2 linked regions of the Homo sapiens genome follow. The protein of the gene in region 2 purifies or fractionates together with the protein of the main gene of each other region. This does not show direct contact. Each region holds a gene or a part of one and is shown on either strand. Other genes may lie near its edges.

What was found.
Region 1: the proteins of EPSTI1 (region 2) and TRNT1 purify together in Homo sapiens (affinity purification with mass spectrometry; one large-scale study listed by BioGRID and IntAct). This does not show direct contact.

Annotation. Positions count from the first base shown.
Region 1 is NC_000003.12:3,125,460-3,130,042, reverse strand, and holds the start of TRNT1 (CCA tRNA nucleotidyltransferase 1, mitochondrial), read right to left. Parts: upstream 3,104-4,583; 5' UTR 3,053-3,103; exon of another isoform or gene 2,025-3,052; intron 1,030-2,024; 5' UTR 1,003-1,029; coding exon 855-1,002; intron 125-854; exon of another isoform or gene 1-124. UniProt on the Homo sapiens protein: Nucleotidyltransferase that catalyzes the addition and repair of the essential 3'-terminal CCA sequence in tRNAs, which is necessary for the attachment of amino acids to the 3' terminus of tRNA molecules, using CTP and ATP as substrates. tRNA 3'-terminal CCA addition is required both for tRNA processing and repair.
Region 2 is NC_000013.11:42,989,433-42,993,893, reverse strand, and holds the start of EPSTI1 (epithelial-stromal interaction protein 1), read left to right. Parts: upstream 1-1,652; 5' UTR 1,653-1,728; coding exon 1,729-1,916; intron 1,917-2,711; exon of another isoform or gene 2,712-2,795; intron 2,796-4,461. UniProt on the Homo sapiens protein: Plays a role in M1 macrophage polarization and is required for the proper regulation of gene expression during M1 versus M2 macrophage differentiation.

The sequences.
Region 1 (4,583 bases), on a different chromosome or scaffold from region 2:
AAGAAGCTACTGGCACTTAGCTAAAGCCATTTCCTATGCTCCTTCCAGACAGGTTTTGCAACGTGCACAATGGAGGCAACTCCTATTTCCTTCTTCCTTCAGTTCTCATGGAAAGCATTTATACCTAGGAAGGAAACAGAGCTTAGCGGTTGCAAGCTGGGCTCTGAAATCAATCTGCGTAAGTTCGAAACCTAGCTCTCTAGTTAGTAGTTACAGAAACACAGGCAAAGCACTTCACATGCCTAACAATCTGTTTCCTTTTTCACGTAACAGGTCAAAATGTGCGTACTCATTAAGTTAGTAGCACCAGTCCTGTAATGAATGGCAAGTACTTAGCACAGCATACAGAAAAGCCATGCTTTTTACTGCAGTCAACTTCTTGCCTTTTCCAGTGATTTAGCTATATTTTTGGATCAGCCATATGTAAGCCTTTCTCTTTTAATATTCCTTTCTCTTTTTTTGAGACAGGGTCTCACTCTGTTGCCCAGGCTAGAGTGGCATGATCATAGCTCACTGCAGCCTCAAACTCCTGGGCTCAAACAATCCTCCTACCTTGGCCTCCCCAAGAGATTACAGGCTGGGTACACCCAGCCAAGCCTTTCTTCCAACAATGAAAACGTGCACATTGGGCACCGTGGCTCACACCTGTAATCCCAGCATTTTGGGAGGCCAAGGAGTGAGCCCAGGAGTTTTGAGACCAGCCTGGGCAACACAAAGAGACCCTCTACTTACGTTTTTTAATAAAAATAATTAAAACAACAATGAAAATATCCGAATGCTGGCTTAAAAAGTTAACCCTCTACTTCTCCATTTATATAGGTTTCCAATCAAGAAAAGGTATCCTAATCTCTCACCTGTCAGACTCTTCAGTCCTTCTGTGAAAAGTGACTGGAATTCGGGAGACTGCAACTTCATTGTGAATAGATACTGCTTCGGAAGGCACAGCCTACTCCACCTACGGTTCAGCACTGGCCTGTGCCAATGATACAGGCACCTCAGCATCTGGAGAGGCAGTCACCAACTACACATCTACAAGGCAAATACACAGGCATACCAATGAAATTAAAAGTGAAGGTAAGTGAAGGAAAACAAAGGGGGACACATTTCAAGTTTATCAACTCAGAAATTCATCTCTTGTTCAGATGAAAAAACTGAAAACGGTGTCAGTTTGAGGGATTACGACTAGGTCTATGTATCTACCTGGTTTTGTTCTCCAGAAGCACTTACTGTGGCAGGCGGGGTCTCACTAGCGCAGGCCTCCATAACTGTTTCAGTACTGACTGACTGGTTGAGTTACATATTAAAAGCTGAAAGAGCCAGCCAGTGCCCTTAAACAAGGCTAGAATGTAACAAAAGCCCCCCAAGAGTTTTGCCTAGGCCTTTCCTGGACCTTGAAGCATGATAAAATAACAAAGGAATTCTTTTTTTTTTTTTTTTTTTTTTTGAGATGGAGTCTCGCTCTGTCGCTCAGGCGGGAGTGCAGTGGCGCGATCTCAGCTCACTGCAACCCCTGCCTCCTGGGTTCAAGAGATTCTCCTGCCTCAGCATCCCAAGTAGCAGGGATTACAGGCGCACACCACCACATCCGGCTAATTTTTTATACTTCTGGGTAGAGACGGGGTTTTACCACGTTGGCCAGACTGCTCTCGAACTCCTGACCTCAAGTGATCTGCCCGCCTCAGCCTCCCAAAGTGCTGGGATTACAGGCGTGAGCCACTGAGCCCGGCCACAAAGGAATTCTTAACAGGACCCGTTTAGAATTAAACAAGTTTTACTGGGGATCTGAGGAAACTCCCCAGGCCTCCACGAACAAGTTTATTAGGGGTCTGAGGGAACTCCCCAAACCTCCATGATTTAGCAGGAGAGAATATAAGGGTAATCACCCCAGCACCTGGACCCATTTAGATTAAGTAAATTTACTCAGGCTCCAGAGGAAGGTCTTCAGGACTCAGATCTTATGGGTAAGAAGTTAATCACTTGTATCTTTAGATCAATGCACACTTACACATAAACATACAACTTACAAGGTATATAAGCTCTGGAAAGCTCTGTAATTCTGAGTCGGTCTGGGATATTTTCCACGCCTTCGCCCCGTACCTGGTTACAGAAATAAACTCCTTTCTTTCCTAGTTTATCTGCATCTCATTATTGGGCAGCGAGAATAAGCAGCCCAACCCTCGGTTTGGTGGTTTGGTCGGGGAGCATTACCACGACACTCGCATGCCACATGGTACTGTGATGACACTCTCCCCAGAGCAGGGCTTCAGGCAGTATGAGAGGGATGCGGGGTTCTAGAAACTCTAACCGAGTTTCTGGTCTCCAAAACTTGTCATGGTCACAGGTGGGTATCACCCTACTTCCCCACCTGCACTCGAGGATTCACGACCCTGGGATAGCTCCTAGACATTGTATTTTCCCATGAATTTAGTTTTGCTGCCCCCATTTTCCTGATTCTTTTCCTGCCATCTTGCAATCTCCTCTGATTTCTGGCACACCGCGGCCTTCCCTTCTACATATCACATCCTCGTTCTCCCCATACGGGGGTCCTGCCCATAAGGAGGCCGCAGCAGCTCTCGAGTGACCCCGGTGTAAACCTGCAGAGAAAAACCATTCCATTCCACGGAAGCGGGTGGAGGAGCCGCGCTTCCCGGCAGGCCACGTGGGGCGGAAAGACCCACTCAGTTTCCTCGCACCTCCGCCTCGACTTAGGAAAACGCTCTGGGGAACCCCAGCCCTGAAAAGGCGCGTCTCACCCCCCACGCCGGGTGCTGGCGACAAGGCCCAGTGAAAAAGCGTCTCGGGGCCGTCCGCGCGGAGGGGAAAGTGCTGAGGGAAGCCAAGGAATCCGCGCCTGCGGTCGCCGGAAACGTGGCGGGGACACGACCTCCGCGTCGGGGCTATTTTGCCCACTGCTGAGGAGGCCTCTCGCCACGTCCCGCTCCCGTCTTCCTCGAGGACCGGGCGCGGTGGCGCCTCTGGCCCACAGCAGGAAGGAAGGGGCAGCAACTCACGCCACCAACTCTGCCCCTCTGAGCGGCGCGCGCCCGCTTACCGGCCCCGCTGTTGCCGCAGCCGCCACCGCCGCCACGCGCACTTCCGGGCTGGTGAACGCGGTGACGTCACCAACGCACATGGGTTGGCGGCGAATGGGAAGTCGCGGCGGGGCGAGGGCGAGTGCGGGGGCGGGGCCCGGACCGAAGGGCTTCCGCCTCCCGTCGCTCCTCCCCACCGTGAGGCGAACCTCAGCCGGTTTCCCAGCCCCGCCGAGGCCCGCTGGGGCGAAGCGGAGCCCCGGGGGGCCCTGAGGAAACCGGCGCGGGTTCGTTTAATTACGCCCTTCTCGCCAGACCTCTGGCTGGCCCTGAGCTGCTCAGAAGCCCATCTGCGCGGCATGCCCGTGCGATCTGAGACAACTGGCAGCTGTCTTCCTTTGCAAAACGAGACTGTTAATAAAACCTACCCCAGGGTAGGACGGACTGTTCGGTAAATGTTAACTTATCCGTGTTTGACTATTCTCTCCTCTAATCTCTGCATAGGGTTAAGTCCACAGTTGACAGAGTCACGCGCATTCGAAATCTAAGCCCGCCGGTCCTATGAACTTACTGGGCATATTTTATTTTCTTACCTGGTTTGTGTAACCATTGGCCTCCTTGGCCCGGAGGCTTCCCATCTGTAACGTGGAGAACTTAGATTTGATCCAGTTCATTAATTCTTTCTAGAGCGGAAAAGAGCAAAGAGAGTGGCAAAGGAGTGGGAATACAGCCGTTGAGCCCTTAAAGTGCGAAAATGTGTAGTTTTTGTTTTGTTTTGTTTTTGAGACGGAGTTTCGCTCTTGTCGCCCAGGCTGGAGTGCGGTGGCGCGATCTGGGCTCGCTGCAACCTCCGCCTTCCGGTTTCAAGCGATGCTCCTGCCTCGGCCTCCCGAGTAGCTGGGATTACAGGTGTCTGCCACCACGCCCGGCTAATTTTTAGTAGAGACGGGGTTTTGCCGTGTTGGCCAACTGGTCTCGAACTCCTGACCTCGTGTTCCCCAGGCCTCGGCCCCCAAAAGTGCCGGGATTACTTTTGCCGGGATTCGGCCACTGCGCCCGGCCGAAAATGTGTAGTCTTTTAAGTGTAACTTTACATCACTTAGCTTTCCCTAAAATTTTCCTAGAAAAATGCTTGTGCATGTTATTTCTGTTCTTTTGCCCTCCCCACATGCCTACCTGTTCTTCCCAAACTTTTCAGCCCCACTCTCTGTAGACTTCCTAAAACGTAAAAAGTAAGATGTGCAATTACCACACCTCTTCAAGGTGTTGAATATCCTGTTTTTGGAAGCACAGGACTGGCTTTCCAAATGGACATTCAGAGGCACAGCATTGATATCATCCGGTGCAAGGATTTTCTGTCTCTCTCTCTCTTTGGGGCAAGGAAAGCCCCAAATCATCCTTTCAGGCTTGTCTGCTATTTCTCACCACCATGACCCTAGACAAACTGGACCAAAGCCTCCATTGCTGTACCCACCTAGAATAGATTCTCCAAATCACCACCTATGAAGGCAACGCTAATACAACTATTATGATGACTTACTTCGTGCCAGT
Region 2 (4,461 bases):
TTCCACATTGCCTACAACAGTGGTTCCCAAAGGGTGATCCTGAGACTGGCATCATTGGTATCACCTGGAAATTTGTTAGAAATGCAAATCCTTGGGCCCCATCCCAGACCTGAATCAGAAACTATATATATATATTTTTGAGATGGAGTCTCTCTCTGTCGCCCAGGTGGAGGTGGGGTTTCGCCACGTTGGCTAGGCTGGTCTTCAACTCCTGATCTCCAGGTAATCCTCCTGCCTCGGCCTCCAAAAGTACTGGAATTACAGGAGTGAGCCACCGTGCCTGGCCATAAATCTGTTTTAACGCACCCTCCTCCAAGTGGTTCTGATGCTTACTGAAATTTGTGAAACTCTGGCCTACTCTACAAAACCCTAATGTCTTAGGATGGCATAGAAATCCTGACTGACTTTCCTACCATGTTCCTTGTCATTATTTTCTCCTCTCCTGTCCCACCCTGGCCCACCCTTCAATTTCATTCTTTCATTAGCTATCAAACCTGTATGTGTCTTTTTGTTCTAAGCACCAATAATATAAGGAAGACAGTCCAGCTCCTAACTGTCTTGCTGACCTAGGACTGGGGTGCTCCAGCCACATGACAACCCCTGGAATTAAGTACACACCATGTCATTTTAAGTGACAAGCCTCTGCCATAGCATCTCCTTCTTCTTGGTGAATTCCTATGTCTTTGGTGGCTCATTCTCAAATGTCCCTGTTCCTGAATTACTCAGAGGGCTAATCCCCAGTTTCTCTGTGCCTCCACAGCTGCCTGTCATTTCATTTATCCCAAAGTGGCATTCCCATTTGTTTACCTGTCTACTAGGATACTCCTAGAATGCAGGTAGCATGAGGGAAGAGCCTTCACTCATCTTTGTGTAGACGGCATTGTGACCCTGGTGACCAACCCTGGCACACATCAGAATCATCTGGGAGCTTTTCAAAAATATGAATGCCAGAGCTCACCCCTGAACCTACAGGAACTGAGCCTTACACATCCATATTTTAAAATGTCCCCACATCACCGTTGCACACTGTTCTGCACAGAGCAGGTATTTTTAATAGTTCTCGAATGTCTAGTCAATTACTTAGCAAGGCTGCCTGGAGAATCATGTCTACCTTAGCTTACTTCTCCGGCTTTGTAGGTTTTTGTTTTCTTTTGATTTCAGTTTCCATTTCCTCTAACTTGAAAGTATGTGCATTGGTAACAGCCACACAGCAGTCATTACTGATAAAAGGCGACATTTTGTTGAGATGATTTTAGTTATTGACCTAATCTCTGGTATTTTAAGGTTAATATATTTTTTACAGTCTCAAATATCCAGCGGTAACCTCAAATTAGAGTTGCCTGTTAAACAGTTTCTCAAGTATCTTTCAGGATTGTAGTCACTCTGCGGGCTAATCGCTCACCAGGTGTCCGTGGCTGATCCCAGTTATTCTGATTAACCTCTAAGGTGATTGTGAGACTTTAAACCGTCTCACCTGTAGCCGACCAAGCCAGCTCAAGTCAACATCCTGGGCTGTTAACCCGCGATAAGGTCGGACGGGGCCTCAGTGGAGAATACGTGGGGAAGTTCTCTGGGGCGGGCGCAGTCTGCTGCTGATTCTGAGAAACCGAAACTCAGCTGTTAAAACCGCTGCCTCTGCACTTTGGAATCCCATCTTGAGACTCGCTAAGCGTCCCAGCCGCATCCCTCCCGCAGCGACGGCGGCCCGGGACCCGCGGGCTGTGAACCATGAACACCCGCAATAGAGTGGTGAACTCCGGGCTCGGCGCCTCCCCTGCCTCCCGCCCGACCCGGGATCCCCAGGACCCTTCTGGGCGGCAAGGGGAGCTGAGCCCCGTGGAAGACCAGAGAGAGGGTTTGGAGGCAGCCCCTAAGGGCCCTTCGCGGGAGAGCGTCGTGCACGCGGGCCAGAGGCGGTGAGTATTTTAACAACCTGGCTTCGGGGCGGGAGCCCGGGCCCCAAACATACTCACTCACAAGCACCTTGGTCCTTGGAGTTTAAAACCACAGGGGCCCAACAACAGGGATTTTGACTGAATGAAAGCTCATTTGCTTAAATGAAAGTATCCATGCCGCACCTTATAAATTGAGTCGGCTAGTTTGCAGTCCTTTGGTAAATAACCAGCCCGGTTCCTTCCAGGAATACTACTTTCCTGATTTTTGTGACTGGCTACAGGATTGAAAGATATGGGTGTGTCGGAACTGCCTAGGCATCCAGTAAGATGTCATTTTCCAGGTATCTCCAGAACTCATACTCCAACCAGTATGGAAATAACTTTTCCCTTACTGTTTTTAAAAATTTGGTGCTGGGCCAGGCGCGTTGGCTCAAGCCTGTTATCCCAGCACTTTGGGAGGCCAAGGCAGGCAGATCACCTGAGGTCAGGAGTTCGAAACCAGCCTGGCCAACATGGTGAAACCCAGTCTTTACTAAAAATAAAAAATAAGCTGGGTGTGATGGCACGTGCCTGTAGTCCCAGCTACCTGGGAGGCTGAGGTAGGAGAATCGCTTGAACCCGGGAGGCGGAGGTTGCAGTGAGCGGAAATTGCGCCATTGCACTCCAGCCTGGGCAACAGAGCGAGACTGTCTCAAAACAAAACAAAACAGAAAAACAAAACTTGGTGTCCTAAACGGAATTACTGTATCAGACACTAACAGGTAAGGGTCAACAAGAAATGTGATATGGGGTAGAAGGTTCAAATTCTGCCTCTAGGTAGGAGCAAGCCTACGTCCCAGCAAGACTCGCAGATAAACTAGCCTCTTACAACCAGAGGAGTGGAGCTGAGAGAGTGAGGAGGTGAGTGACCATAGTACCTCTCATCCCTGATGTTGATATGTGCTCTATGCAGGAACAGATAGGTAGCTTTTATTCCTGGTCTTTGGTTCAGGGACTGCAGTGAGTATCCGGGAAACATTTATTAAGCAAGTGTCATGAGCCTCTCTTTCTAGCCAATGGAATGAACTTTAACTCAACAGTATGGTTTATCACAACATCACTGCCTTTGAAGTGCTGCCTCTGTGAATTGGAACTGTCCAGATGGTTTTATTTTTAGTCTCTCCTTTTTCATCGACTTCTAGTCTCTGAAAGACAAACCCTGGTTGCTAAGAAACAGTATATAACCTTATGGCCGATAAACAGTAGATTTTCTTTCATCCCTTAGCTTTTGGAAAGTACCAGGCCTTTAATATTATTATTTAGCTTAGGTTTACCCTTAGATGGGGTGGATAATCTGGAAATCAATTAGAGATTGTTGCATTTCTTTCCTCCTCAGAATAATTAGTGTCTCGCCACAGTAGAAGCAGCCAATTACTTTCAAGTAACCCACGTATCTACAAGCTATAGTACTTAACAGTAACAAAGGTCACAGACATATGGTCTCGTGTCCATGAATAGTTAACGATGAACATGATTTGCATGACTTTTTTCTGTTAAAAAGCATTTATTTAGATACAACCATTTATTTCTAAGCTCATATCATCGCATAAGTATTAACTGTTGCATCTGTTTTCTTATTTGGTTGTAATTACCCTGGAATCTTGCCAGATCAAATTGCTCAGAAAGAGGCAGCTTTCTGATGGGTTATCCAGGCCTTAATACCCTGAAGAGCTCACTGTACACTATTTTGCGATTCCTGAAAAGATTTTCAAATGAACCATTAAAAAAATACCAGGAAGTGTTTAGTTATCTCTCACAGAGTCTTCCTTTTTTTTTTTTTTTTTCCTCATGTGAACCAGTTGCAGTAAGTACAGAATTATATATTCCCTTTTAGGGGTTTGATGTCTGAGATCCTGTTGGGATGACTTTGAATTTTTGTTGCATCTCCATTAGTTACTTAGATTCACTTTCTCACTTGTTTCCTTTAATGAAGTTGGAAAACCAAGGAAAATGAATGGCAAATATCTCAGTAGAATTAGCTGCCTACCCGCTGCCCCAAAATAAAGAAGGCTTTATTTATTTTGGGGATAAAAATTAGAAACACTTTCTGATTTAAAAAAATGAAGAGGCCGGGCATGGTGTCTCACGCCTGTAATCCCAGCACTTTGGGAGGCCGAGGAGGGCGGATCACGAGGTCAGGAGATGGAGACCATCCTGGCTAACACAGTGAAACCCCGTCTCTACTAAAAATACAAAAAATTAGCTGGGCATGGTGGCAGGCGCCTGTAGTCCCAGCTACTTGGGAGGCTGAGGCAGGAGAATGGCGTGAACCCGGGAGGCAGAGCTTGCAGTGAGCCGAGATCGCGCCACTACACTCCAGCCTGGGCGACAGAGTGAGACTCTGTCTCAAAAACAAAACAAAACAAAACAAAAAGCAAAAAAAAAAAAAAAAGAAAAAAGAGGATAAAGTGCTTTAATAGTACAGTTTCATTTGTCCACTCATAATGTGAATTTATTTATATGGTAAAAGATTTGTCTTGTTTTGTGGGAATCCTTCCATTAATTTCCTCCTGCAGCCCCAGTGTGG